Linked DNA regions of Homo sapiens. The protein of the gene in region 1 interacts with the protein of each later gene in a biochemical or structural test. Each region holds a gene or a part of one and is shown in the gene's direction. Other genes may lie near its edges. The genes, in order: BCL2, NLRP1, BNIP2, PPP3R1, CAPN2, BMF and CASP3.

Region 1 (3,500 bases):
GTCTTACATGAGTCCTGCCTTGGGTTAGGTTGGAGGCACGGCAAGGAGAGCTTTGCTTCTGCCCTGGATAAACTCACAGGCTAGTGTTGCAGGCATCTTAATAAACTCGTAGTTATCATACAGCCTGATAAGCATGATCCTAGACTCAGAGACTTAGAGGAAAAAAGCAAATAACTATAAGTTATTTTGCATGTACTTCAGCCTTGGTCTAAGAACGTTATTTCTGACCATATGGCTGTTCATGTGTGCATTAGGCCTAATTTAAACAGGGCCAAAATGTAGATACTTTAAAAAATACTGTGTAACGTAGACATATGCTTAAGAGAACTGAAAGGCAGGGGGAGTTCCCTTGTTAAATATTAACCCACTAAGCACTATTTATGCATACTAAGAAGACTTAATAAACACCAGTCTACAATTTCTAAAGCATTTCATTAATTCTTTTTAAGTAAAAGACAATCAAGGCTCCGATTAGACTGACTGGAACAGGGTAATTTGAAGAACTATCTTTCTTAAATAACTCTTGTATGCCAAAAAATACAAGTAGGTTTTGAACCAGAGCGGGGGCTCTTCCTTTGAGCAGGGGAAAAAAAAGCTTCTGTTTTGTTTTGGTTTGAGGTTATATTACTGTTCTATTTATCAAGACACTTCTACGATGCTAGTTACAGAAATTCACAGTCCATTGTAACACTGGCATTTGCCTTCGGACTTTTTTGGGCTTGTGGTCTGTTCGTTTAAATGGAGACTGTAAAACTTTCAAAATGCCAACAAAGCTGTTTTCACTTAAAAACATATTTTTATAGATTGTCACTTGTTGTTCTTATATATGCCCAATTCTGTATATGCTATAGCACTATTTCTCTGCCCTCCATTTGCCAGACAAAAGATACACCCATCTGTCCTTCAGTGTGAATAAGGATTGAATGATTATTCCTCTCTCTTCCAAGCCATGGGACTTTCTCATAGGTGCCACCACCCCTGTGACCATCCCCTACCTGCCTTATCATTCCACCGGTGAGGGACCTCTCAGGTGTAGCTCCTTGTTAACTTCCAATTAGTGATGGGTAGGATTTACCTGAAGAAAACCGTAATGCGCTTAGATACTAGCAAAAGGGAGCAGAAGTGGGGAGTCTAATCAAAGTGAGAGGATAACCCTCACCCCAAACTTGCTGCAGGCAGCTGGGCAGGTCAAAATTCTGTGACCAGACACTATCCTTTTCCTCTAGTGATTATAAACTTTAACCTGTGCAGAGAAAAGATAGTATCTGCTGGCAAAATTTGTACTTACTTTGATTCCTCTAGTGCAAGATTATAGTGGGGTTATACCTGAGACTTCAATAAATGTTTGACTAACTAAACTAAAATAGCTTAGGGTAAGGACTACTTCCCCAAACGCCCTTTTAAACATGTGAGAAAGGGAATCTCCCTGACATACTGGTATGGCCATTTGTAGCAATATACTGAGAGTGACTTGGGTGATTTTCTGGGGCGATCAACCACATTCCATGAGCAGGTTAACTGTGGAAGACACCTGCCCTTGAGCATCGCGTTTGGGCCACATGCGTCAATGGGGAAATTTGTGTTTCCATTCTGCTTCTTGTTTTGCCTTCACAACTTCAGGGATAGAAGCGTATTCCATTTTTAGTTAATAATCAGCTCTCTGGGGCTTCCATGTAATGAGTCAGAAACTGATGACTGACTCCACTCTGCTCATTATCATGTCTCCCAAAAACAACCCGAGAACCCACTGTGTCAAGTGAAGCTTTAATTTTTCAGGGGAGGTTTTCTCCATTGAGACCAATACATCTTTTCTTGTGACAGATCCAGTTACCATATTTCCTTATTTTTAACTGTCGAAAAGACAGTTAAGCTGCAACAGAGTATGGTGAGTTTACCAATTTTAATACTTGAAGCACCAAACAAAGGATCAGTGTTGCAGGCTGTCTCTTCTTGACTTTTTCCAGCTCTCCTTAGCAGATAACCAGGATGATATTTTTTCTGCTTTACAACATGATGAATGCTATATCTCTATATTAACTCTGAAATTGAATTGCAGCCAAATATTCCTCTCAGCTGCATTAGAATTTTCTAAAAGAACATGAGACACATAAACTTAGTCTTCTTAGTTCAATGCTATATCTCAGATATATTGATATCTGATTTACAATTAAAATAGGAATAAAATTAAGTACAAATTATATCATCAGCTTTAAATATTGATTTATCTTCTTGAAAAAAAAAAAGCGAGTCCATAAAGGATGGCAGCATTGGCATTTCTGGATGTAAAATTTCAGGGCTATCTCCTAGCCATATCCTTTATGGATTCCTGCCAGCATCTTTAAAAACACACACACTGAAGACACACAGAGAGGTTTTGAGGTATTTTATAACAAAATTATAAGAACAGGGAGACAAAGCCACTTACTAAACATTAAAGTGATAGTATAAGAAGAAAATGATTTGAAGAAGTCCTAATTGAGGGAAATGAGCAATTGTCCACAAAACTTAACCCTGGGTTCCCAGGAACCGGGGTAGTGATGGTCATGGAGAGGGGTTTTAGAATCTGGTTATTTAGGAAAACATGCACACTAACTTGTTTCATTGAAAAAAACATTTATTGAGGCCCTACACCATGCAAAGCTCTATGCTAGGTGTTTTAGTTAAGCGAAAAAATGTCTAAGATAACTTTTGCCTTCAAGGAACTTACCAATCAGTAGGAGACCAAGACAAGGATACAAATCACTGTAATCCTGGACAATGTGTAGTAGACAGAGAGGCCCAACCCAGCTACAGTGGTATCTGAAGAGTTTCATGCCGGAGATAATGTTGAGACAAGTTTTAGAGAACAGGCAGGCGATACGGGGAGAGGGTCTTTCAGGTAGTGGAAACTGGAGGCGTCAAAGCAGGCATGAATGCGGGAGGTGTGTTTGGGGAATTGTGGAGAGTCTGATTTGACTGGGGCATGGAGAACTCTCCTGAGATAAATCCATAGTTTTGAGAACTTACCACTGCATACTAAGTTGTGAAACTTGTATAGACAGCCCTCCCTATCTTTGGGTTCCACATCCATGGATTCAACCAACTTTGGATCAAAAATATATGGGGTAGGGCAGGCACAGTGGCTTAGGCCTGTAATCCCAGCACTGTGGGAGCTCAAGGTGGGTGGATCACTTGAAGTCAGGAGTTCAAGTCCAGCCTGGCCAACATGGTGAAACCCTTTCTCTACTAAAAATAGAAAAATTAGCCAGGTGTGGTGGTGGGCGCCTGTAATCCCAGCTACTCGGGAGGCTGAGGCAGGAGAATTGCTTGAACCCAGGAGGCGGAGGTTGCAGTGAGCCGAGATCGTGTCACTGCACTCCAGCCTAGGGGACAGAGCGAGACTCTGTCTCAAAAAATAAATAAATAAACAAACAAATAAATAAAATAAAGTATATAGGAGGATGTGCATATGCAAGTACTACTCATTTAATATCAGGGACTTGAGCATCTTCAGATTTTGG
Region 2 (2,446 bases), on another chromosome or scaffold:
TTCATTTTTGTCGTTGTCTGTTTTTTCTGTTAAAATTAATTTGTTATTCCCATGTCCTAAGATTGCTTGATCTTGATTCTAGATTCTGACATCCAAATCCAGAACGTACACCTTTGGTTGGTGCCAGTCTAGAAGGCTAAACAAGAACAAGGAAGTAGATTTCTGCTCAGACAAGGAGGTGCTAAATAGTTCAAGCTATCTAGCAAGGGGTTTGGTTAGTTCACCAGGGATACAATTCAGGCCAACACGGGATTAAAACCAAGTCTGGGATGTTATAGGAGAAATTGCTATCGCTCATTTGGATGTCTTCTATTACTGTATGATCACAGCTTCTGAGCCTCAGTTTCCCCATATGCATAAGGAAGGGATTCACCTAAATAACCTCTAAGGACCCTTCCAGCTCTTACTCCAGATTCTACCAGAATTTGTCTGTGGCTTTTTTCTAAATCAAAGAATCTCAGAAGTGAGTGGGAGCTTGGAGGTGTACCATGTGTGTTAATAACTTAGCACTGTTTCAGATGCATCTTCATCTCTGTTTTCCTCCAGGAGATCTCATGCCTGCAACTACTCTGATCCCTCCAGCCCGCATAGGTCAGTAACAGCTCTCAGAGACCACAGGAGGCGGTGGCAGTTCTGGGGTACTGTCTGGTTCTGGGGGAAGGGAAGAGAGAAAGGAAGGGACTCATCACTGCAAACCTCACAAAGAGTCAGGCCCTGGAGAGCGGTGCATGGTCGCTCCCCATACCCCCTTGTCCTATCCACAGAGACCCTAGAATTCCTTATCTGACAGCCTCCAATGTGCCCAGCAGGAACCCCACTCCCGATCCCCACTCTGGCAGAATGCCAAGCTAGATGCTGCCATGAGGGAGGACACAGGTGCATTTCTGGAGGCAGAAGGAAGCGAGGGATGCAGAGATGAGAGAGGAAAGCACTGAAGGTGGGGATTGGAGGTGGAGGCTGTGGTTGGAGCCCTTCTTTGTTCGTTGCCAGCCGTACCTTCACCTCTGGATGCCCCGCAGTTGCTGCACTTTGTGGACCAGTATCGAGAGCAGCTGATAGCCCGAGTGACATCGGTGGAGGTTGTCTTGGACAAACTGCATGGACAGGTGCTGAGCCAGGAGCAGTACGAGAGGGTGCTGGCTGAGAACACGAGGCCCAGCCAGATGCGGAAGCTGTTCAGCTTGAGCCAGTCCTGGGACCGGAAGTGCAAAGATGGACTCTACCAAGCCCTGAAGGAGACCCATCCTCACCTCATTATGGAACTCTGGGAGAAGGGCAGCAAAAAGGGACTCCTGCCACTCAGCAGCTGAAGTATCAACACCAGCCCTTGACCCTTGAGTCCTGGCTTTGGCTGACCCTTCTTTGGGTCTCAGTTTCTTTCTCTGCAAACAAGTTGCCATCTGGTTTGCCTTCCAGCACTAAAGTAATGGAACTTTGATGATGCCTTTGCTGGGCATTATGTGTCCATGCCAGGGATGCCACAGGGGGCCCCAGTCCAGGTGGCCTAACAGCATCTCAGGGAATGTCCATCTGGAGCTGGCAAGACCCCTGCAGACCTCATAGAGCCTCATCTGGTGGCCACAGCAGCCAAGCCTAGAGCCCTCCGGATCCCATCCAGGCGCAAAGAGGAATAGGAGGGACATGGAACCATTTGCCTCTGGCTGTGTCACAGGGTGAGCCCCAAAATTGGGGTTCAGCGTGGGAGGCCACGTGGATTCTTGGCTTTGTACAGGAAGATCTACAAGAGCAAGCCAACAGAGTAAAGTGGAAGGAAGTTTATTCAGAAAATAAAGGAGTATCACAGCTCTTTTAGAATTTGTCTAGCAGGCTTTCCAGTTTTTACCAGAAAACCCCTATAAATTAAAAATTTTTTACTTAAATTTAAGAATTAAAAAAATACAAAAAAGAAAAAATGAAAATAAAGGAATAAGAAGTTACCTACTCCATAGGCACAGCAGTCCCGACTGGCTGCTGGTTGGCTATTTTTGTGGTTATTTCTTGATCGTGTGCTAAACAAGGAGTGGATTATTCATGAGTTTTCCAGAGAAAGGGGTGGGAATTCCTGGAACTGAAGGTTCTTCCCCCTTTCAGACTACTTAGGGAAACTTCCAGATGCTGCCATGGCGTTCGTAAACTGTCATGGCGCTGGTGGGAATGTCTTTTAGTATGCTAATGTATTAAAATTAGCATATAATGAGCAGCGAGGACAACCGGAGGTCCCTTTCATCACCATCTTGGTTTGATGGGTTTTGGCTTCTTTACCACATCCTGTTTTATACGAGGAGTCTTTGTGAAACCAGTCCTGCCAACCTCCTATCTTATCCCCACCTCAGACATTACATACTCGTCCTTAATCTTAAGAGGTTGTAGAAGGACAGAGATCTATCTTCTGTCACTGCTTCATGCTGAACAGGGGCCATCATCCCTACCTGCTCTGGAGGCATAG
Region 3 (3,500 bases), on another chromosome or scaffold:
AATATAATCCATAGTATGAAATATATTTTCAATCATAACCTGAGATACTATACATGCAACTGAAAACAAGTATTTTCACTGAACAGTATCCTTACTATAAACAGTATTTAACTTTCCCAGAATATATGTAGTCTGAGTATTCTCTTTTCTTTAAAAAAAAAAAAAAATTGCAACCCTGTAAATGAATTTCATGACCAGACCATTGTACTAAACATCAAGTATGAACTAATATATAAGATTATTACGCCTTTTCAGTGGATAAAAAGTAAAGTGGAAATTAAGTTATACATTTTTCTCTCTTCATAGGACATTGGCTCCCTGGATTATCAAGAGTTTGTAGTTGACATTGAATCCAGGCTGAGGATGGAAGGTGTGGAACTTAAAGAAGAATGGCAAGATGAAGATTTTCCGATGTGAGCAATGCTTTTAAAAGAAAACAATTTTAGAGCAAAAGTTCAAAATTTCTTTATCGAGATGTTACTTTTTTTTTTTTTGAGACGGAGTCTTGCTCTGTTGCCCAGGCTGGAGTGCAGTGGCGCGATCTCAGCTCACTGCAACCTCCGCCTCCTGGATTCAAGCAATTCTTCTGCCTCCACCTCCCAGGTAGCTGGGACTATAGGTGTGCGCCACCACGCCTGGCTAATTTTTGTATTTTTAATAGAGACGGTGTTTCACCATATTGGCCAGGCTGGTCTCAAACTCCTGACCTCGTGATCTGCCTGCCTTGGCCTCCCAAAGTGCTGGGATTACAGGTGTGAGCCACTGCACAGCTGAGATGTCACTGAGAAACTCAGTAATACAAGGCGATCATTTGATACTAGGAAGTAAAGTTTCTTCGGAACAGTTAGATTGATTCTCTTGTATCTTACTTTCCAACCAAGTATATATATAATCTTCTATAATCTTTCATTTTTGTTTTGGTCACTTAAGTTTGCAAATTTTTGCTTTTATAATAAAGTGTTTTAGTGTGGTTTGTTTGTTTTGTTTTGTTTTTGTTTTCATTTAAACAAGATCTGAGGGATTCCTCAGAGAAGGAGGTCTTTAGTTGTCTTTAAAATGTTTCTTTAATTTTGTGGCCAGGTGCGGTGGCTCACGCCTGTAACCCCAGCACTTTGGGAGGCCGAGATAGGCAGATCACTTGAGGCCAGGAGTTTGAGACCAACGTGGCCAACATGGTGAAACCCCGTCTCTACTAAAAATACAAAAAATTAGCCAGGCTTGGCGCTCGCCTGTAGTCCCAGCTGCTTAGGAGGCAGAGGCACAAGAATCACCTGAACCCAGGAGGCAGGGGTTGCCGTGAGCCAAGGTCGCGCTGCTGCACTCCAGCTTGGGCGACCGAGCAAGGCTCTATCTCAAAAAAAAAAAAAAAAATTTGTGGGTTCCCCCCCACCAAAAAAAAAAAAACCTTACTAAGTAAATTAATAAGGATTTTCTAGCTTATCTGGCCAGCCACCTTGACATGTTTGCATTTGTATTTACAATTATATTGGCACCAGGTAGGCTAATGAAAAAGAGAGCAAAGGCAGACCTTAAGTTTAAATAGTGCTTCCGTGCCGTACTTGTCAGAAGACATCCTAGTGCATAATCAGGTGCCTTAGCAGTTGGATAGCTTAGCAGTTGGACAGCTGATCGGAGACCTGAGTCACTGTTGCATATGGTGGTGATAGTAAATATAGGAATGCTGATCTCAGAAGAATTGAACCATTGTTACTGTAGTCTCGTGAGTAAAAATTGAGCTTCATACATTGCATCATACATCACATTATATTTGTGCATTTCAGTCATATTTGTTTAAAATTGTTACATGTTTTATAATTGTATAAGAGCTGTTGCATAAGGAATTTATATCTACTTTTATGTGTTACTTATATATAATAAGTGTATAAGTCAGCTCTGACAGTCAGAATTTTTACTTTGAAAGTGTAGCCAGGCATAGCACGTCACGCCTATAATCCTAGTGCTTTGGGAGGCCGAGGCAGAAGGATTGCTTGAGACCAGCCTGGGCAACATAGCAATATCCGGTCTCTACCAAAAAAACTTTTAAAATTAGCTGGGCATGTTGGTGTGCCACTGTAGTCCTAGCTACTCAGAAGGCTGAGACTTTATCTTAAACACTGCTAGGCTGGGCACAGTGGCTCATGCCTGTAATCCCAACACTTAGGGAGGTCAATGCACGAGAATCGTTTGAGCCCAAAAGTTCAAGGCCAGCCTGGGTAACATAGCAAGACCCTGTCTCTACTAAAAATTAGCCAAGCGTCGTGGCACGCACCTGTAGTCTTAGATACTCGGGAGGATCTCTTGAGCCCAGGAGTTAAGGCTGCAGTGAGCCATGATTGTGCCATTGTATTCCAGCCTAGGTGACAGACAGCAAGACCCTGTCTCAAAAACAACAACACTGCTTTATTCCATTTTCCAAATAATTATTTCTATAAGCTGTATGTTTAATAGATTGAACTTCAAAAAAAAATTCTTTCTTAATTTCTGGATTAAAAAGTATGCCTGTGTCTTCTAGACCTTTACCAGAAGATGATAGTATTGAAGCAGATATACTAGCTATAACTGGACCAGAGGACCAGCCTGGTAAGAGCTTGACACTTACTTTCATTGAAATTATGGACTTTGTGTTATTTTTTAAAACACGTTTCTTTGTCCAAAAAAAAAAAAAACTTGAGTTTTTATTCCATCATAGAAGTCAAAGTATAAGTTGAACATTGAGGAAAGCATTTTTAGAATGCTTTAAAAAAAATTCCAAAAACATACACTTGGTTTTTGGAAAGTTTTACAGTAAAGGGGTGGAGGAGATCATTTTTAGTGGTAAGAGGTATCTATAAGGTCTGCCTCTATTTAAAAGACATTGATACTTTATTGATCTCTTGCCAACGATGTAGAAGCAATAATGATCAGAATAAAAATTTTGTGAATAGGTGCTTTGAAATTATGTTCAATTAATATTATTTTTTCCCAAGAATGGGGTAGTTAAAATTTTTCTTATTCAACTTTAGCATCTAAGCATTCCTTGTTACGTATCTTTTTCTTTATTTTCCAATTCCAGGCTCACTAGAAGTTAATGGAAATAAAGTGAGAAAGAAACTAATGGCTCCAGACATTAGCCTGACACTGGATCCTAGTGATGGCTCTGTATTGTCAGATGATTTGGATGAAAGTGGGGAGATTGACTTAGATGGCTTAGACACACCGTCAGAGAATAGTAATGAGTTTGAGTGGGAAGGTAAATGTTTCACTGTTTTTAATCTGATCTTTATTAATGTACTAAGGGATTTTGTTTGAAATACATCATTCTTTCTAAAGTTCATATATTTGTTACTAAGATAGGAAATTGTGCTAACCCTTGAATATTCTCAAGGACTTAAAAAGTGTGTATAGAGTACACCAGTGGCTTTTTTCCCCTCTTATTTGCCCACTGCTCTCATGTTTTTTTCATAGCTGTTTCAAAAATATTTCTTGATAATTATGGCATGCTCTTTTTTAGTCAATCAAGT
Region 4 (3,500 bases), on another chromosome or scaffold:
ACAAAACCATAATAAATGCAGATAAGGATGGAGATGGAAGAATATCCTTTGAAGAATTCTGTGCTGTAAGTACAAAAGAGCTGGTTCTTCCGTTAGTTATGTTTCAGCAACATATTTTAAAAACCACTTAATAGAGAATTTCCATATTTTGTCCTAAAAACTTAAGTATTTGATTTTTCCTAATTGCCCGTATTGTTTTGAAATGTGTTCTTCATTGTAATTATTAACAATTATTATTCCCAAGGATACTACTTTACTTATTGTTGGTAGCCTCTCAAATTACAACTAGGTTATACTCTTAAGGTTCATTTAATCACTCATTGCTTCTGAACAGAAGCACAACCACAACCACTTAGCTTCTCTTCTCTACTTATGCCCTAAAAACAGAGAGTAGGCTTTTTGATGTGTTACAAGGATTTTAAACTGCAAGCTAGAGATACTAGAGAAAACTAGAGCATCCAGAGTAGAGGCAAAGATAACAAAGTTTTGAAATTTTTCTGTCAGTAATGATTGGATGCTTCCATAGAAAGATTTTCTTCCTCCTTTTTATTTTTAAATGTAAATCATATAAGGAAAAACAAGTGATTTTGATAGTTGTGTGTTATGTGAGAACTGAAGTGTAGCTACTTTGACCTTTAAGTAGAAGTTCATATTATCCTTAAGCAAAAACCATCTTTTTATTATGTTTTCAAAAAGTGGGGTGGCACTGTAAAGAATAGACTGCGTCTTTTTTTGGAAGAGTTAGATGGGTTTGAGACGTTTAAGACACTGAACTACCCCCAGGGGGCGCTACCGCAAGCCATTTCTGTCCCTTCCGTTTTACCTCCTTCACCATTGCCAAGGGTCACTGTGAACTGGCATTTGGTGGAGTGTGACATGAGACCAGGCTGGTTGTGCCATCATAAATAGCAGCCAGTTTTCAAAAGAAGGAAAGGAGAAATTCTAAGCCTTAGGGGAATAAAATAAATGGAAAATTCTTGGCTTCAATGGTATTGGAAGAGGGGAGATATATATATATATATAAATAAAATGTATATATCTTATGTATATTTTACATATATATAATATATAAATTATAAATATAATATAAATATAAGAAATATAAATATATAAATATAATATATAAATGAAGATTACTTGCATTTAGCAAATATAAAATGTAATAAGTATATCACATCAGTGGAAGGAAATTAAAATATATCTTTTATATATAGAAATAATGCTGTTATCTATATTGAAGACATAAGCTAAGTTTCGAGTTTATTTTCCAATATTTATTTTAGTTTATTTTTAAGCTTTCTTTTTTTTTTTTTTTGAAACGGAGTCTCACTCTGTCACCAGGCTGGAGTGAAATGGCAGAGTCTTGGCTCACTGCAACCTCCGACTCCCTGGTTCGAGTGATTTTCCTGCCTCAGCCTCTTGAGTAGCTGGGATTACAGGCACATGCCACCAGGCCCAGCTAATTTTTGTATTTTTAATAGAGATGGAGTTTCACCATGTTGGCCAGGATGGTCTCGATCTTCTGACCTTGTGATCCACCTGCCTTGGCCTCCCAAAGTGCTGGGATTATAGGCGTGAGCCACTGCGCCTGGCCCATTTTTAAGTTTTTGTAGACAGGGGTCTCGCTATGTTGCCCAGGCTGGTCTCCAGCTCCTAGCTTCAAGCGATCGTCCCATTTCAGCCTTCCAAAGCATTGGGATTACAGGCACGAGCCACTGTGTCTGGCCACCAGTATTTGTAATCAGTTGCTTTTTGCTTGTATTTTTAAGGGGCATAGTTTACGAGTGGAGAAAAATGTTCGTTGTGTTTTTAAAACCAACTTTTCTAAACATTGATCAAGCGCTTGTAACTGGCTTCATTGAGTTCTTTTTATGTTGACTTCTCAAGCTATAACAGTGAAAGATTGGAAGTTATTTTAAAAGATTGCATACTATATATGTACTTTAAAATTTTCAGAGTACTTAATGTATACAAATAATTCTTACAGATGATTAGTGACAGGCTTAAAGTTGGTGTATTGAACCCATGTATAATTTATTTTTACCTCCTCCCCAAACTCCAATAAAATGCAATGAATTAGAAAGGGTTATGTACTCACAAGGACAAAAATGAAGAGCAGAGAAGAGACAGCATCTAAATTTGGTAATTTAGAACGTTTAGAAAGTTGAATGGTTAACTAACCTAGCAGAATGATTCTAAGCTTTATCAGCTTGGAAATCTGAGAAACAAGCTGGGTTATAATGGAGAATCCGTGAAAGGCTCAGAAATTGATGGCACAAGCAACTGGAAGTGAGGATGAAAGTGAGGCTAAAAACAGAAAGACTGGTTAAAGTCTGTTTTAAGAAGGAACTGGAACACACAAGATCGCCTTCCCTACTCTGTTCCCCTGGACAGCTCTCTCTCCTGCACCCTATCAAGAGATTGGGGAGAGTCTCTAGGCTGGGAAACATGAGGCAGAGATGAGGTATATGTGTTGGGGAGCTAAGTGGCAGTAAGCATATTTGCATATTGGCATCTGTGCCCTTGTTCTGTACCTGACTTCCTGACTCCCTAGCAGCTGGACTTACACTGTCTAGGTAAGAGATGGGAAAGAGCCCTCTTTAGGAAATCTTATCTCCCCAAAGAAATGGTGCTACCAGATCATTCAAAGTATAGCTCTCACTTAACAGCCCCATCATTCACCCAGAGTTCCAGTGCCCTTTCTACAGAAGCAAAGCCAAGGATCTCACCAAACACTGAAGGAAACCTCTGTGTATGGAATATAAAGATGAAACCAGGTCCAAAAAAATAAGTTCAAAACAAACAGATTAGACAAGACCAGTAAAAATTTTAAAAGGAAAACTGAAACCTGTCATTATCCTTGGGGATATTGTATATTGAATTTTTGAAACAAAAGTTGGATAATATATAAAAAAGCTCTTGGGAATGTAATTTTACATACCTATTTTTGGAGTTGTAACACCCGAATGCCAGGATTCCAGAAGGAAAATGGAGGGAAATAAATAATCAAAAATGAATCAAGAAAATACTCCAAAGCCAAAAATAATATGTTTTCTGAGAGGGCTTATGGAGCATCTAGCATAGTCTGTAAAAATAATCTGGACCTGGGCACACTGTCATGAAATTTTGAGACAGTGGGAACAAATAACTGGTTCTGCAGATTTCCAAAGAGCTGGGGTGGTAGGGTGGAGTGCTGGGAGAAGGGCTTCATATAAACAACCAGGAGTCATAATGGCACCAGATTTCTTAGTAGCAGTGTGGGAAACCCACAAGAACATGGAGCATTTTGCCTGTGCAATTCTGAGGGACAGTTATTTCCAACTTAAAATTCTCTATACACTCAAATGGTAGTAGAAAGACACTTTTAGGTATGTAAGGCCTTCTCATTTTGGAAACTACTGGAGGATGTGCTCCCACTGCAATAAGGTCATAAATCAAACAAGTAGAGAGTGTAGGATCCAGGAAGCAGAGGGTCCAGCATGGTGAGAGGGAGGATCCCC
Region 5 (3,500 bases), on another chromosome or scaffold:
CAGTGATCTTTCAACAAATGGTAAAGCTTCTCTGAGCTCCTTTACCAAAAGCGCATCCTGTCAGTTAAGCTGAAGTTCAGAGATGAAGCACCAACAGCCCCATCCTCGAGAGCCGGATCCTGGGAGCTTTAAATCTCATTTTCCAAAGCTAGGCAGCAGTGAGAGGTCTGGGTGCCAAGCCCCCTCTAGCTCTTGTGATCCTCCCTCATACATGGACTCAACCCCCAAATCCTCCCCACCGTCCTCAGCCCCATACCTCCTGGCTCATGCGGAAGGGGGTTGGAGGCCCAAGCCTTCATAGCCCTGACTTGAACTCAACCTCTTACTCCTCCCTTTTATCTAATCCTGCAGGTTGAAAGTAACGGAAGCCTACAGAAACTGATCCGCATCCGAAATCCCTGGGGAGAAGTGGAGTGGACAGGGCGGTGGAATGACAAGTGAGGAGGGCGCAGGCCTCGGGGCCCCAGGCGGGGGTGCATTGTGCTGGGAGGCTCTGGGAAGAGGGCGAGAGAAGAAGACATGTGCATTATTCTGAGAAATATAGCCAGGAGAGCCCAGGCCACGTGGACAGGGACCCGTGGACAGGGGCCCCTCAAAGGGTCTTTTAACCAGGACACTCCTCCAGCAGCCTGAGTGCCTTCTTCCAGGCCCCAAGCTGCTCGTGTGAAGTTCATTCCTGCCACTGCCTCCAGGTTCACCCCTTCCCTAGCTCAAATCCACCCTTCTATGGGGCTTTCAGGGAAAAAAATACACCCCACCTTCCCCCAGGCACTTCTATTACAGGGATGTGAACTTTGTACCAAAGGCCAGAGAAACATCCCTCTGTTGATTTCCAGGGCTTACTGGTAGGCATGTTGAACCCTCAACTATTTGGGGTAAACACTTGTTTGTACATCTGCTGTGGCAACCTCAGCCTACTTGCTCTGCCTCAGGTTGGAGAGGTGGGCAGTACAGAGGCCTGTGTGTAATTCCAGCCAAAGCTCAGGCAGTGGTTAGTTTACCCTGTGCACTGCCCCTGTGTACAGGGCCAGGTCCTTCTGCTCCGTGGACAGAGAGACACCTGCTGAGGCTTCCCAGGCCTCAGCCGGAGGCTCCTCATCAGATCTTCAGTTGTCTCTAAAAGAGCTGCCAGGCCCATCTCAATTGGGCAACTGCTCTGAGCTACTCCATCTCCCTCTAATGAACTATGTTCATTTTCTGGACTCTTCCTTGCCACTGTCTTCCAGCACAACTCACCCGCTCACTTTGCTCCCTGGTTTGCATCTGTATAGTGTTCTATACTCTTTAAAGTGCTGTAAGAGTATTAAAATGCAGCTGTTAGCCAGATGTGGGCTACTTTCCCCCTTTCTGGAGCCTGAGCCCTCAGAGGTGAGAGCAGATGTCCCTCTTCCTCAACTCTGGGGCCTTTGGGGAGAAATCATCGTACACTAACGCCTCTCTCTTTACTTTGTTTTCCAGCTGCCCAAGCTGGAACACTATAGACCCAGAGGAGAGGGAAAGGCTGACCAGACGGCATGAAGATGGAGAATTCTGGTAAGATTAGTGGAGGCTTCAGGGAAAGCTCTGTCTGCCCCAATGTTCTTTACTAGAAAACTGCTAATTAGAAAGAGTGTCGGCCAAAGTGAGTTTACCATGTCGAGGACACAAGCGTGTGGGATCCTGGTTTTGTTATTTTAAGTTCACTATAAGAGCCTGAATAAAGAAATTCTTAAGCCCCTTCAACGGTCCATCTTGACAATGGGGTTTATAAGCTGAGCAGCTTCAGAAAAAGGCTAAGAGGAATTCCTTTGGTAATGTTCAGATCCCAGGAAACAAGGGAAAGATGGGGCCTTTCTCCCCCAGGTTCCGGAGACTCATCCCAGCCCCTTAAGAAACTGGTCCCTTAGTGAGCAGCAATGGACCCACATGTCTGTGTGTCTGCGCCACTCTATAACCACCTGCACCTGGACACAACATGCTCTTTATCAAATGGGGCCCATATATTGTCACATTTGATGGGCACGGCTCCCATTTTTGCAGGTGAGAGTTCTGAGCTTCAGAGAAGTTTAAGTAACCTGCTCAAAGTCACCCAGCTAGAAAGTTGCAGCGCCAGGACTGGAATCTGGGCCTTCTGATTCTGAACCTGGTGCCCATCCACTCAGTTCTAATGAGCTGCTCTGCCTGGCTTTGGGTGGCTCCTGGTCTGGTGTTGGTGGAAAGTCAAGGCTTACCAGTGTGTCTTCTTATCACCTGTGATGATTGTCTCTGCTTTTGCCAGGATGTCTTTCAGTGACTTCCTGAGGCACTATTCCCGCCTGGAGATCTGTAACCTGACCCCAGACACTCTCACCAGCGATACCTACAAGAAGTGGAAACTCACCAAAATGGATGGGAACTGGAGGCGGGGCTCCACCGCGGGAGGTTGCAGGAACTACCCGAGTAAGGGCTGTTGCATATAAGGGCTGTTGCAATGCGGGGCCACCAAAGGCCAAAGCTCCCCTTACCCCACCCTGTGTACCACACCCCAGCCTAGCAGCCCCAGGAGGCAGCTCCTGCTCACTGGAACCCTCTCTGTCTTCTTTCTCCCTGAGCCTTTTCTTTTCCCTGAGCCTTTTCTCCCCGAGCTCTCTTTCTCAATCCCTTACCTCCTGCCCTACCCAGGACAAACCCAAGAGCCACTGTTTCTGTGATGTCCTCTCCAGGCCCTAGATTCCCCAGCGCCCATCATGACCTTCAGCCTGACCTTCCGCCATGCTCACGGAAGCAGTGCTCAATCCCACTTCACGGCCATGAGCTGCTCTATGCACCCCACACCCAGGCAGCCGAGCCTACAAGGGAACCTTGTCCCGGCACCCAGGGAGCCCTCCACATATCAGGCCCTGTTTGTTGCCCCATACTCACTTCAATCAGCAAATGTTGACTGGGCGCTGCCCAGATGGGGTGAAGATTTCTCCTCTGGTCCAGCCTTTGTTGAGCCCCTTGATTCTTCTGCCTTCATGGCTTAGTCCGTCAGCAGTTGTCTGAACATGATGACATCTGCCAATTATGGGGCACACCTTCAGTGCTTGGAACTATCCTAAGTGTTTTGTACACAGGGTGAGGATCCATAATCTGAAAATGTGAAATCTGAAATGCTCCAAAATCCAAAACTTTTTCAGCCCCAACATGATACCACAGGTGGAAAATTCGACACTTGACCTCAGGTGACAGGTCGCAGTCAAAACACAGTCAAAACTTTGTTTCATGCACAAAATTATTTTAAATATGCTATAGAATTACCTTCAGCCTATGTGTATAAATTATATATGAAACAGAAATGAGTTTTGTCATTAGACTTGAGTTCCATCCCTAAGATATGTTATGTATATACAAATATTCCAAAATCCAAAAAAATCCAAAATAGGAAACACTTCTGGCCCCAGGAATTTCAGATAAGGGATATTCAGCCTGCATAACATTCTATCTAACCTTCCCAACAAACTTCTGAGGCAGGCACTTTCTTATCACCTCCATCTCTAAGA
Region 6 (2,245 bases), on another chromosome or scaffold:
AACCAAAATCGTGTGTGGTGGCAGATCCTCCTCTTCCTGCACAACCTTGCTTTGAATGGAGAAGAGAACAGGAACGGGGCAGGCCCTAGGTGAGGGTGGGCTGCCCTCTTCACATGGGGCACCAGGAACACCGTCTGGAACAGGAAGGACATCGGGCAGGACTGACACTGTGTCTTGTGAAATTGTTTTTTTGTTGTTATTTTGTGTTTTAATTTTTTTTAATTTCTCTCTGAGTGTACATACAACATACTCAAGCGGGACCTTCTTTCTCTGTCAGGCCCTTGACCTGGAATGGGGGCCTTTGTCAAACACTGTTGAAGGAGAGGCTGATGTGTCTGTGATGGTGAGAATTCCCAAGGGCTCTGACAAGTAGATTCTTCGACTGAGGAATCTACCAGTTGTCGAAGATGATCCGTTAGTGATGTTCTCTGGGAAGTGGACTGTGGTTTTTCCAGAGGAACTCAGTTAAGAAATCGAGAGTGGATTAGACTCCCAGTTCCACCAAACCTATGAGCCTTCCACTGTGGATGGGGGCCGTGATCCTGATGGTCACATTGCTTTAACCCAGCAGGGCTTCGGCCAGGGGCTTTCCACTTGAGGATAGCAGCTTCACTAGGCTGGCCGGCCAGCTCCACATCTGACTGGGTTCTTACTTCTCAGCCAGTACCTGCCCCATGGGCTCAAGGATTCCTGGCCAGCTCCTGCCACCTCCAGCAGACCTCAGGGAGGGTTGAGTTTCTCTAAGGACCCCTCAAACATGTCGCAAAATGAACCAAACTTCTGGCTAGGCCTCAAAACTGACTTGGTCCCACTTGGAGGCCCCAGGATTGGTCCTGAGGTACAGAGCCACTGCCACCACTGGCGGCCTGGGACCAGCTGGGTGTCAGCCACGGATGAGCCGAATAGCCAGTCAGCATGTTGCTGCTGGCAGCCTGTGCCTTTGTCAGCTCTTCTTTCAAAAGACCCCACCGACAGACCGCATTCCACCCCCAACATCGGCACTGAGGGACATCGGGGGCAAGTTTGCAGTGGGGCCGGAAAATATGGTGGCCACCCTACCATGAGAGTCAGCCGTAGGGGACCCCAGACCCCTTGGTTTCCTTGGAAACAACATACCTCTTCCCCCTTATCCCCAGTCCTTTTTCATACCTAGTGGGATACAGAAGAAGCCAGGACAGTGGCTTTGCCAGCTAAGTGACTTTTAGAGTAACAGATAACGATTAGAGTGGGGAACCGTCAAAGCTGGGTACACATTTCCTATCTTCCTCCAGCTTCCAGCTAGGCCAGAAGGGCATGCTCTGGAACCCAGCAGGATCACAGCTGCCTGTGCACGTCTTCCCTTCTCTCCCTGCTGCGGCACTTATGGAGAGGATCTAAAGCAGCCGGTGTGGCAGCTCCGATAGCAGGCACAGGGAATCTGTTAACCAGACGCTAGAAACTAAATTATAACTTTTGCATATGTGAGAAAAGACAACATTGGTGCTAACAGTGAAGTAAGGCCCAAAGGAAAGACGGCTTCCCTGGACAAAGAAGACCTCAGGGCTACCCAAGGAAATAGGAGGAGTCTAGAGTAGACTCACAAATCTGAACAAGCCCAAGTCTTCCAGTTCTGAGGAGAGGAGGTCTTCAGTACTATTGAAGGAGACATTGATCTTCTGGATGTACAGTTGTGCAGGTTGTTCACTGCACAAGGGCACCTGCAGCTAATGGAGGCTGGAATTCAGCTTGTGTTCTGCTCACTAAGCTGTGTGCGTGCCCTGGTGTGGGGCTACTTCTCCCAAGAAGAAGGGGTGCCTTTCCTAATTTGCAAAGGTGCCATATGGGCTCACAGCACCCTGGAGGAGAAGGGCCTCAAACTGTGCATGTAAGCCTTTGTTTTGTTCTGCTCAGATATTCTGGATATTACCTCTTCTTGGTCAGAATTCTATTCTCAGGGTGTGTACCATGATTTGTCTGCTAAGAAGACGGGTTCCTGCTTTGCAGAGAAGGAGCCGGGGACCAGCTTGAAGACTGGCTCTGGGACACACTGACCATTGTGAAATTCAGCCTTCCCTGTGGGTCTCCATACCATTTTATGATGTGTATGGGACATACGTTGTTCTCCCCTCTCTGGATCAAGGTGGTGACAGGCAGCCTGCTGCCGTATGCTTCAGTGGCACACACCAAAAAACCGGGATTATTTACAGCAGCCACTATTCACCCCTTTTGGCAGACTCTCCACCTGAGTTCAGTGAGAGAGAAAATG
Region 7 (2,626 bases), on another chromosome or scaffold:
TAGTTATTCTTTGTTTTCCATACAATTAAAAGTAATTCTTTCTGTTCCAAGGAATGACATCTCGGTCTGGTACAGATGTCGATGCAGCAAACCTCAGGGAAACATTCAGAAACTTGAAATATGAAGTCAGGAATAAAAATGATCTTACACGTGAAGAAATTGTGGAATTGATGCGTGATGGTAAGAAGAAACAATTAGAATGAACTTCATTGTACAATTAATTTTATACTATGGTCTAGCAATAATTATATGTATAATAAAATATGAGAATTGTGGAATTATACTGTACATAACCCTAATCTTACATACTTTAGTAAGAAGTTTAAAAAAAGTTATTTATGCCAACTTCCTAAAATGGTTTGAGATGTGTTGCCGTGCCCCAGGTTAGGTTAAGATGACCTCTTAGTTTTAGTCTCAGTTTCTTCATCATGTTCCCATACAGTATATCTGAAGTTGTTGAATAAAGTCATGGATTTTTTTTCCTTTTATTTGCAAATGTCTTTACAGTTTCTAAAGAAGATCACAGCAAAAGGAGCAGTTTTGTTTGTGTGCTTCTGAGCCATGGTGAAGAAGGAATAATTTTTGGAACAAATGGACCTGTTGACCTGAAAAAAATAACAAACTTTTTCAGAGGGGATCGTTGTAGAAGTCTAACTGGAAAACCCAAACTTTTCATTATTCAGGTAATGTCTAACTGAGTGATTTGGTTATTGACGATTAAGCAGGGGTTACTATTCTCAACTGTAAATTATCCAAAGGATAATTTTTTTCCTGAAGCTAATGAACTATTGTTACTTTTCATTTATTTACCACTTAAAAGATATAGAGTAAATTTTAATTTTATACTTATATCAAAAAGACTCAGCATAATTAACATCCTTTTTTTTTTTTTTTTTTTTTTTTTTAGACAGAGTCTTGCTCTGTCGCCCAGGCTGGAGTACAGTGGCGCGATCTCCGCTCACTGCAAGCTCTGCCTCCTGGGTTCACGCCATTCTCCTGCCTCAGCCTCCTGAGTAGCTGGGACTACAGGCGCCTGCCACCAGGCCCAGCTAATTTTTAAATTTTTTTTTAATAGAGACAGGGTTTCACCATGTTAGCCAGGATGGTCTCGATCTCCTGACCTCAAGTCATCCGCCCGCCTTGGCCTCCCAAATTGCTGGGATTAAAGGCGTGAGCCACCGCGCCCGGCCAATTAACATCCATTTTTACATAGCATTTCAATTTTTTAGAACTAAGTTATGTGTTCACACACAAATTTTTATAAATAAATATTTATTTTCTAACACCCAGGCCTGCCGTGGTACAGAACTGGACTGTGGCATTGAGACAGACAGTGGTGTTGATGATGACATGGCGTGTCATAAAATACCAGTGGAGGCCGACTTCTTGTATGCATACTCCACAGCACCTGGTGAGAACGTTACACATAATGAATGTTACATGTGGATTTTAAATGAATTAACTGTGACTGATCATAGAATTATACAATGAAAAGTGTGTTTCAGAGACTGTCAAGATTTTGATATCCCTAAAGATATCAAAACTTGTCTATATTTTAGGGAACCTTCATCAAAGAGAAGTCTCAAAAAGTTGTCTTTAGCCAAAAGTTTGGCTAGAAAATATGCATATATAGCCAGGCACAGTGACTCACGCCTGTAATCCTAGCGCTTTGGGAGGCCGAGGCAGGTGGATCACTTGAGGTCAGGAGTTCAAAACCAGCCTGGCCAACCTCATCTCTACTAAAAATACAGAAAAATTAGCTGGGCATGGTGGCACACGCCTGTAATCCCAGCTACTGGGGAGGCTGAGGCAGGAGAATCGCTTGAACCTGGGAAGCAAAGGTTGCAGTGAGCCAAGATCGCACCACTGCACTTCAGCCTGGGCGACAGAGTGAGACTCCGTCTCAAAGGAAAAAAAGAAAAGAAAATATGCATATGTAGAGTAGACTAGCACGATGTCATTCATTGGACTTTATCAGGTAGATCTCCGCTACTAATATCAGGTAGAATATTACGTGGCAACAGAGGCCAAGTCAGAGCTTCCCCTGCATCTTAGAGAAGAAGAGAGGTACGTTTCTCAGGAGTTATTTGAAAGGTAGTAAATAAAAAAGATAAACATGACTAGTATACAAGAGGATAGATGTGGAGTGGGAGAAAAGAAGGTAAAAAACGATACATGAATGTGCCGTTAACCTCCACGTTTTTACTGTTCTGCTGCACACGTCATCATCTAAATAAACATTTGTGGATTATACCACCATTTACTCACACAGCTAAGGGTGTCGGAGAGTTTGGAAACTTTAGGTAAATGTATTCTTAAGCAGTGTTGCATTTTAAAATATGCTCAATATGGTTTATCTTATCCTCTAGGCATCTTTCCAAGCAAAGTACCTCTAAGTTAAAAGCAATGGGTCTAATAGTTAACCTAGAAAAAAAAGTATGATAAATATACTATTTTCCCTTTTTGGACCAATACTTGGTAGTGTGTTTATTATACTTTATTCAGATGCTCTGTAGACAAGTAGGACACTCAAAGCAATTTGTTTCTTGGCTAAGTCAGTATTAAAATAAGGTGAAATCTGATTGGAACACTGTGCTACTTACAATGATCCTTTTTATACATCTTT

The links.
Region 2: the proteins of BCL2 (region 1) and NLRP1 form a complex in vitro, tested with the Homo sapiens proteins (one study listed by IntAct).
Region 3: the proteins of BCL2 (region 1) and BNIP2 form a complex in vitro, tested with the Homo sapiens proteins (one study listed by BioGRID).
Region 4: the proteins of BCL2 (region 1) and PPP3R1 form a complex in vitro, tested with the Homo sapiens proteins (one study listed by IntAct).
Region 5: the proteins of BCL2 (region 1) and CAPN2 form a complex in vitro, tested with the Homo sapiens proteins (one study listed by BioGRID).
Region 6: the proteins of BCL2 (region 1) and BMF interact in a test that uses a peptide from one of them, tested with the Homo sapiens proteins (one study listed by BioGRID).
Region 7: of the proteins of BCL2 (region 1) and CASP3, one has a biochemical effect on the other in vitro, tested with the Homo sapiens proteins (one study listed by BioGRID).

Annotation. Positions count from the first base shown.
Region 1 is NC_000018.10:63,309,770-63,313,269, reverse strand, and holds part of BCL2 (apoptosis regulator Bcl-2), read left to right. Parts: intron 1-3,500. UniProt on the Homo sapiens protein: Suppresses apoptosis in a variety of cell systems including factor-dependent lymphohematopoietic and neural cells. Regulates cell death by controlling the mitochondrial membrane permeability. Appears to function in a feedback loop system with caspases.
Region 2 is NC_000017.11:5,513,618-5,516,063, reverse strand, and holds the end of NLRP1 (NACHT, LRR and PYD domains-containing protein 1), read left to right. Parts: intron 1-546; coding exon 547-591; intron 592-990; coding exon 991-1,310; 3' UTR 1,311-1,946; downstream 1,947-2,446.
Region 3 is NC_000015.10:59,679,321-59,682,820, reverse strand, and holds part of BNIP2 (BCL2/adenovirus E1B 19 kDa protein-interacting protein 2), read left to right. Parts: intron 1-306; 5' UTR 307-363; coding exon 364-413; intron 414-2,512; coding exon 2,513-2,580; intron 2,581-3,052; coding exon 3,053-3,229; intron 3,230-3,500.
Region 4 is NC_000002.12:68,183,033-68,186,532, reverse strand, and holds part of PPP3R1 (calcineurin subunit B type 1), read left to right. Parts: coding exon 1-65; intron 66-3,500. UniProt on the Homo sapiens protein: Regulatory subunit of calcineurin, a calcium-dependent, calmodulin stimulated protein phosphatase. Confers calcium sensitivity.
Region 5 is NC_000001.11:223,750,539-223,754,038, forward strand, and holds part of CAPN2 (calpain-2 catalytic subunit), read left to right. Parts: intron 1-351; coding exon 352-437; intron 438-1,458; coding exon 1,459-1,533; intron 1,534-2,257; coding exon 2,258-2,418; intron 2,419-3,500. UniProt on the Homo sapiens protein: Calcium-regulated non-lysosomal thiol-protease which catalyzes limited proteolysis of substrates involved in cytoskeletal remodeling and signal transduction. Proteolytically cleaves MYOC at 'Arg-226'.
Region 6 is NC_000015.10:40,089,635-40,091,879, reverse strand, and holds part of BMF (bcl-2-modifying factor), read left to right. Parts: coding exon 1-93; 3' UTR 94-2,245. UniProt on the Homo sapiens protein: May play a role in apoptosis. Isoform 1 seems to be the main initiator.
Region 7 is NC_000004.12:184,629,822-184,632,447, reverse strand, and holds part of CASP3 (caspase-3 isoform a preproprotein), read left to right. Parts: intron 1-51; coding exon 52-180; intron 181-507; coding exon 508-683; intron 684-1,290; coding exon 1,291-1,411; intron 1,412-2,626. UniProt on the Homo sapiens protein: Thiol protease that acts as a major effector caspase involved in the execution phase of apoptosis. Following cleavage and activation by initiator caspases (CASP8, CASP9 and/or CASP10), mediates execution of apoptosis by catalyzing cleavage of many proteins.